Homo sapiens: one gene and its partner. The protein of the gene in region 2 purifies or fractionates together with the protein of the main gene of each other region. This does not show direct contact. Each region holds a gene or a part of one and is shown on either strand. Other genes may lie near its edges.

Region 1 (3,812 bases), on a different chromosome or scaffold from region 2:
GCACCATTTTACATTTTCACCAAAAGTGCACCAGGGCTCCAATTTCTCCATATCCTTGCCAACACTTTTTAAAATAGTAGCCACCCTAATCTGTGTGAGGAGATACCTCATTGTGGTTTTGACTTGCATTTTCCTAATGATTAGTGATGCTGAGCCTCTTTTTATATGCTTGTTAGTCACTTCTATATTGTGTTTGGAGAAATGTCTATACAAGTTCTTTGCCTATTTTTTATTCAGGCTATTTGTTTGTTGTTGAGTTGTAGCTCAGTGGCATACTCTTGATTCTGAAATGTACTACAATATCTGGAAGCAAATATTTCCTCATGGGTAACCTGTCTCCGTTTATTTTATTTTTGCATTACATCAAAGCCTCTGAACAATGTTTAAAGGCTGACTCTACACAAATAAACTTGATAAGCACCTGATATACTTCAGACACCGTACAAGATGTGATGGTGGTTCGAAATAAGATCCAGTCTTGTCTTTAAGAAACTTAAAGGCTCCAGGTCCACTCTCACAGACCCAGCCAAGTGGACCCCTGCATCAGGCCAGCCCCTGCAGGCTCAGGGTAGGGCCCACCCCTGCACCAGGCTGGCTCCTGCAGATCTACTTACCGGGCTCCAGGTGTTTCACCTGAAGACCCACTTAAAAGGTCCACCCTAGTGGATTCCACTGCCAGGCCTGCCGCAGAGGACCCAGCCTCCAAGCTACCCCCAAAGACCAAGGCACCAGGCCCACCTACCTGCAGAACCTGTCAGTTGCCCCCCCAAGAATCTCTGGATGAGCTACCTGGTAAGGGCTTCCCCTGCTGAAGCCATCTGTAAAGGCCTATGTGTGTAAGAGGACACATAGGCTAAAAGTAGAGATAAAAAAAAGATATTCCACTCAAATGGTAGCCAAAAGAGAGCAGGGGTGGCTATATTTATTTATTTATTTTTGAGACGGAGTGTCGCTCTGCCACCCAGGCTGGAGTGCGGTGGTGCCATCTCAGCTCACTGCAAGCTCTGCCTCCTGGGTTCATGCCATTCTCCTGCCTCAGCCTCCCAAGTAGCTGGGACTACAGGCGCCTGCCACCACACCCGGCTAATTTTTTGTATTTTTAGTAGAGACAGGGTTTCACCATGTTAGTGAGGACGGTCTTGATTTCCTGACCTCGTGATCCGCCCGCCTTGGTCTCCCAAAGAGCTGGGATTACAGGCGTGAGCCACCATGTCCAGCCGGGGGTGGCTATATTTATATCAGACAAAATAGACTTTAAGTAAAAAACTATCACAAGGGATAAAGAAAGTTACCACACAATGATAAAGGTGTCAATTCATCAAGAGCATATAACATTGGTAAATATAAATGCACTCAACATTAGAGCACCTAAATGTATAAAGCAAACATTAACAGAACTGAAGAAAGAGGTAGACGACAATACAATAATAGTAAGGGACTTCAATACTTACTTTCAATGATAGATCATCCAGACAGAAAACCAGTAAGGAAAGAGCAAACTTGAACAACACCATACAAATGGACCTAACAGACATATACAGAACATTCTATCCAATAGCAGCAGAATATACATTCTTTTCAAGTGCACAGAGAATATTCTCCAGGATAGTGCATATGTTAGGCCACAAAACAAGCCTTAACAAATGTAAGACTGAAATCACCTCAAGTATCCTTTCTTTTTTTTTTGAGACGGAGTCTCACTCTGTCACCTGGGCTGGAGTGCAGTGGCGTGATCTTGGCTCACTGCAAGCTCCGCCTCCCGGGTTCAAACAATTCTCTGCCTCAGCCTCCTGAGTAGCTGGGATTAAAGGCACCCGCTGCCACGCCCAGCTATTTTTTTTTTGTATTTTTAGTAGAGACCAAGTCGGCCAGGCTGGTCTTGAACTCCTGACCTCGTGATCCACCCACCTCAGCCTCCCAAAGTGCAAGGATTATAGGCGTGAGCCAGTGTGCCTGGCCTCAAGTTCTTTTCAACTACAACATTATGAAACTAGAATCAGTAAAGGGAGGAAAATTGGAAAATTCACATGAATGTGGAAATTGAACAACATATTCTTGAACAACCAATGAGTCAAAGGGAAATAAAAAAAACTTGAGACAAATGAAAAGGGAAACACAACATATTAAAACTTAAGGGATGCAGCAAAAGCAGTTCTAAGAAGAAAGTTTATGGTGATAAATGTCTACATTAAGAAAAAAGAAAAATCTCAAAAATCTTAACTTTATACCTCAAGGAACTAGAAAAAGAACAAACTAAGCCCAAAGTTAGCAGAAGGGAGGAAATAATAACAGAGCAGAAATAACTGAAATAGAAGTTAGAAAAATAACAGGAAAGATCAATGAAACTTAGAGTTGTTTTTTTTGACAAGATAAAAAAGTGACAAACTTTTAATTAGAATAAGAAAAAAAGAAAAGACTCAAGTAAAATCAGAAATGTAAGAGGAGACATTATAACTTATACTACAGAAAAAACAAAGGATCCTAAGAGACTACTATGAACAACTATACATCAACAAATTGGATAATCTAGAAAAAAATGGATGAATTTCTAGACATATACAGCTTACCAAGACTGTATCATGAAGAAGAAATAGAAAATCTGAACATACTAATATGAGTAAGGAGGCTCAATCAGTAATCAAAAACCTCCCAACAAGAAAAGCCTAGGACCTGATGGATTCAATGGTGAATTCTAGCAAACTTTCTTCAAAGAAGAATTAAGACCGATCCTTCTCAAACTCTTCCAAAAATTGAAGAGAATGGAACACTTCCAAACTCATTTTATAAGGGTGGTATTACCCTGCTACCAAAACCAGACAAGGACACTAGAAGAAAACAAAATTACAGGTCAATATCTCTGATGAACATAGATGCAAAAATTCTCAACAAAATACTAACAAACTGAATTCAACAGCATATTAAACAGATTATATACCATGATCAAGTAGGATCTATCTGTGGAATGCAAGGATGGTTCAACATATGCAAATCAATAAATGAGATATGCCACATTAATAGAATGAAGGATAGAAATCATATCATCTTGATAAATCCAGAAAAAGCACTTAACAAATTTCAACACCCATTCATGATAAAAACTCTCAATAAATTAGGTATAAAAGGGATATACCTCAACATAATAAACCCATTCATGATAAAAACTCTCAATAAATTAGGTATAAAAGGGATATACCTCAACATAATAAAGGCTATATGTGACAAGCCCACAGCTAACATCATACTCAAACAGTCAAAAGCTAAACCTTTTCCTCTAAGATCAGGAATAAGACAAAGATGCCCATTCTCACCACTTCTGTTCATTATAGTAATGGAAGTCCTAGCTGGAGCAATTAAGTAAGAAAAAGAAATAAAAACAAAAAGCATCCAAACCAGAAAGAAAGAGGTAAAATTGTCTGTCTGCAGGTGACATGAGCTTATATATAAAAATCCTTAATCTTTAAAGACTCCACCAAAAATGTTAAAACTAATAAATTCAAAAAAGTTGCAGAATATAAAATCAACATATAAAAATACAATATACACTAACAACAAACTATCCAAAAAAGAAATCAAGAAAATTTCATCTACAATAGTACAAGAAAAAAACTTAAAAAAAAAAAACAAAAAAAACTTAGGGATAAATTTAACCAAGGAGGTGAAAGACTAAAAACTACAAAACATTGATGAAAGAAATTGAAGATGACAAAAAAAAAAAAAAGGAAATATATCCTATGTTCCTGGATTGGAATAATTAATATTGTTAAAATGTCCATACTACCCAAAGTGATCTACAGATTAAATGTAATGCCTAT
Region 2 (3,912 bases):
GAGAAATCTGGCGGGCGAGTGGGCGTCAGAGCACCGGGGGGTGCTGGGGCGTGTGCAGGTTAAGGGCGTTGGGGTGCGCGTGGCCGATCAGGTTGAGGTAATGCCGGTCCAGGCCCTGCACCGGTGTCAGGAAGGGGCTGTGCTGCTGCGCTGGGCTAGCGAGCGGCACTGGCGCGCTGGGCAGGTAGGGCAGCGCGGGGCTGCGGGCCGCGCCAGGCGGCCAGGGGAAAGGCCCGGCACCAGAGCCCTGCGGGAACACAGCGGCCTCGCCCGGGCTGTGACCAGCGAATTCGGGCCCCGCAGGGTGCAGCTGATAGGAGAAATCCGGCTCCGGGAGCGAACCCAGCGGCGGAAAGGCGGGCTCCGCGCCCAGGCGGGCCTTGGACTGCAAGAAGGCGAGGATGCGCGCGTACTTCGTGTCCTTGGTCTCCATCCGCTCCACCGTGGTGAGGTAATGCACCAGGTTCTTCATGCACTCGTGGTAGCCATAGTGGAAGTAGTTGGCAAACTCCGCTAGAAGTTCTGCTGGAGGAACGAGAAAGCCCGTAGGACGGACACACCCTGAGTGCCCCTTCCCCACGCGAGCCCAAAGCGGGTGCAGGGCACCTCCCACCACATTTTCTGGCCAAAGTTCCCATTTGAGGCCCGCCCTCTCCTCTGCGCAGTCTTAGAGACTGGCGAGGCACGCGCAAACGCCCTCTTTCCCTGAGAGCCTGACCCCACCCACCCCACCCGGGAGAAGGAGGTGGAACCAGCCTCCCTGGGAACCAGTTCTCCCTCGCCGCCTTGCTGTCGCCGAGCAGGGAGAGGCGCCTTCGCAGGACCCCTGCCCTCCTGGAGAGTGGAGCTCTAGTAGAGCTCTCGGGAACACTCAGTCACTCCCCTCCCAGCCCCAGGGTCTCTGGGTGGCGCAGGCGCCTGGCCCAGGCGTCCCATTCCCTAACCTGTGCCCACCTTTTTCCCTTCCCCGGGGAAAATCAGCGGAGTGCAGTGCTCTCAGGTACTGAACGGTCATCTCGAGGATCTCCGCCTTCTCCAGCTTCCCGGAACTCTGCAAAAGGAGGAAGGGCCCCTCGCAGCGGCCCAGCGCCTGCTGGTCGGGCACTGTGGCGCTGGAGAGGACCAGCGAGCGGACGCGGCTGCGGATCTGCGCCAGAGCCTCCTGAGGTTCGCCCTGCGCTCAGGCCCCCCGCCTGGGAGGGGCCCGCAAGTGAGGTCCTCTGTGTCCGCGGGCTCGGGCGTCTCCGCAGAGTGGCCGCAGAGGCCTCCCAACGCCTGGCACCCGGCTCCGGGTCGCCAACGTTACCTGCTTCGCCAAGGCCATGGGCACTGTCTTGCCCAGCTCGTTCAAGCAGCGGTTGATCCTGTCCCTCCTCCGCTTTTCTATCACTTTATGAGAAACGGGGGTTCTCTGCGAAGAGAGGGTTGTATGTTTAGGATGGCTTTGCCCGGGAAGTCGTCAAAGGCGCGGCTCTAGCAGCTGGGTGCAAGCCGCCTCTCCAGCCGCGCACACTGCTCAGATTCGCTCTAGGAAGGGACTCCTGGCCCGCCACGCTCGGGCCAGGTGAGCTCTGCCTTCTGACGCCCGCGCTGGCGCGCTCCCCTTCCAGCCACCCTACCCAGGCCTTTGGGGAGGTGGCCGCCAGCCTCCAGGCAGGACTTCTACCTGGTTGAGCACCCTCCTCTCTCTACCCCACCCCCTTCCCAAACCACTCGAGATTCCTCCACACTCAAAGTCCCGTGCGGGCACTTCCCTGCCATCGGTCCACCCAAGTGGCGGGTCGGTGAGTCAGATGCCTCCACCACCAGGGCGCAAGTGCCATTTGGGCTCAGCCGACTCACTTTGCGTTCCTTGAGCTTGTCTGACATCCTGGTCAGTACGCGCCCTCGGGAGAGGCGGTGGCGCGGGGCACCCGTCCACTTTTCCGCCTCGTGTGCCTCCTCGAGTGTCCCAGGTAGACTGCAGCCTCCCAACTCCGAGGGCTGCCTTATAAAGCGGTCATCTAGGGCTCCAGATGCATTCACGAGTTGAATTATTCCATAGGATTAGGGGAGCTGCGTTTGGAGGATGTATGCATTCAAGATCAGTTTTAAAGAAGTTAAGAAAAAAAAAAAATTAGCAGCCGAGGGGGGCGAGCTGGGGGCAGATCAGCTTTGTTAATCCACGTGGCCCTTCAAAGGACACGTGATCGGCCCAGGAATAACATTTGCATGGCAACAGCTCGGGCGGGAAAAGGAGGCGGTAAACTGGGGCCGGCGGGCGAGCAAGCGCCTGCAGCAGTCGCGGGCGCGGAGCGCAGGGGCGCAGCGGCCGCGGGCACCGGGGGGCGAGGACCCTCACAAAACAGTGTCGCCTCTTTTAGTCCCACCGCTGAGTCTCACATGATCGCCTGTTTACAAATCCCAGCAAGCCCGCCGTCCCAGCGCCGAGTGCGTTTTAAAGCCTGTCCAGAGTCATTAAAGTAATTAAGTAAGCCTTTAATAGGCTGTTCCGCCGGGTTCAAGGGAGAGCTCTTGGAGACGGAGGCGCCCCGTTTGTTCCCAGGCTTTTCTCACACGACTTGGTGACACGTCCTTCTCCCCCCTTTTTGTTTACACCGCTTTATTTGTCCGGACATCCCGGCAGGTGTGGGGCTGCGGCTGGCACACGAGGCTCCCGCCTCGCCTCGCCTCGCCCCTCCCGCCGCTGTTTGGCACGCGACGCTCCCCCCTACTCCCTGACCACGTCGCTGGCTTTCTTTTCTCCCCACCCCTCCTGCTCCCTCTTCGCGGGGGGAAGAGGCTCAATTTGTAGCCTATTATCCTATACGAAAATGTCCATTGAAAAGTATGAATAGTTTCATTGGGCTAAATTTTAATAATGCCAGAGGGTGGGGGAGGAGAGACTGGCGGGCGTGTGTGTGTGTTTGTGTGTGAAGGGGCGGGTGGGAGGATTGGGGGGCAACACGGAGAAGAGTGGGCCGAGAAGAAAAGGGGGAATGCAGCTGGCCCAGGCAAGCATTATGCAACGTCACCTGCGAGAGGGGGCGCCTACAGACCCCTATTCATTTGCCTAATTTTGGTCAATTTAACAAACTTCAGGAGAAATTATTGTGGCTTTGTCAGGGAGGGTGAAGCCTTCTGATCGAATTAACAGCATGTTTTGATCCGGTAAATGTCATTAGAAAGGGAGAAACAATCGCGCTTAGAGGGCTCTGAGTAATGCGCCCAAGTGGAGACGCCAAAGCGCACGGCTCACAAAGGGAGCAAGTAGCTGCCACAGGGAACTTTTGTACCCGCCCATCGCCCAAGTTTTGACACAAAAAGGCATTATTTCATACTTGAATACGTTTAATCCAACGATTGTCTATTTTCTGCAAACATATTTTCACAGCATTGTTAACTTTTTATGTCTCCCTTTCGCTGGCGTCTTTTCTTAACGTTTGGGGGCGGGAGAGCGCAGACACTTTGGGCATCAATATTTGTCACTGAAAAGGGCCCTGTGAAGTTTGGGAAGTTGATCTCTTTTTTATGGTTTTAGAAAGCGAAAATATCGGGGGGAGGAGGAGGGAGGGAAGGCACGAACAGAAACGAGGGAGGAAATTTGCTGGACGGGCCCAAGGGGAAGGAGGGGGGCGGCGGCGGCTGGGAACTCTCTTGGCCGCCTGCGCCTCTGAGGGCAACCTGGCCCCGCGGCCAGAGGCCACCTCCCCCAGGACGGGCCTCGCTCACACTTGCTGCCTCGGATCCTATACTCTGGGGGCTCTGAGCTTGTGGGGTGTGGGTGGGGGGTGAGCTTTCTTGCAGATTGAAACGATAAAAATGATTTTTGTTTTATGGCCCTTTCTAGAGCCACCGAACTCTCACCTCTCTAATCTTTTCCATCTGGGAACAGCTGAGACCGCTTCTCAGATTTTTCTTCTTTTCTGCCTG

Evidence for each region.
Region 1: the proteins of HELT (region 2) and SORT1 purify together in Homo sapiens (affinity purification with mass spectrometry; one large-scale study listed by BioGRID and IntAct). This does not show direct contact.

What each region holds. Positions count from the first base shown.
Region 1 is NC_000001.11:109,328,334-109,332,145, forward strand, and holds part of SORT1 (sortilin isoform 1 preproprotein), read right to left. Parts: intron 1-3,812.
Region 2 is NC_000004.12:185,016,886-185,020,797, reverse strand, and holds the start of HELT (hairy and enhancer of split-related protein HELT), read right to left. Parts: upstream 2,309-3,912; 5' UTR 1,870-2,308; coding exon 1,843-1,869; coding exon of another isoform or gene 1,711-1,842; intron 1,448-1,710; coding exon of another isoform or gene 1,412-1,447; coding exon 1,307-1,411; intron 1,052-1,306; coding exon 955-1,051; intron 526-954; coding exon 26-525; 3' UTR 1-25. UniProt on the Homo sapiens protein: Transcriptional repressor which binds preferentially to the canonical E box sequence 5'-CACGCG-3'.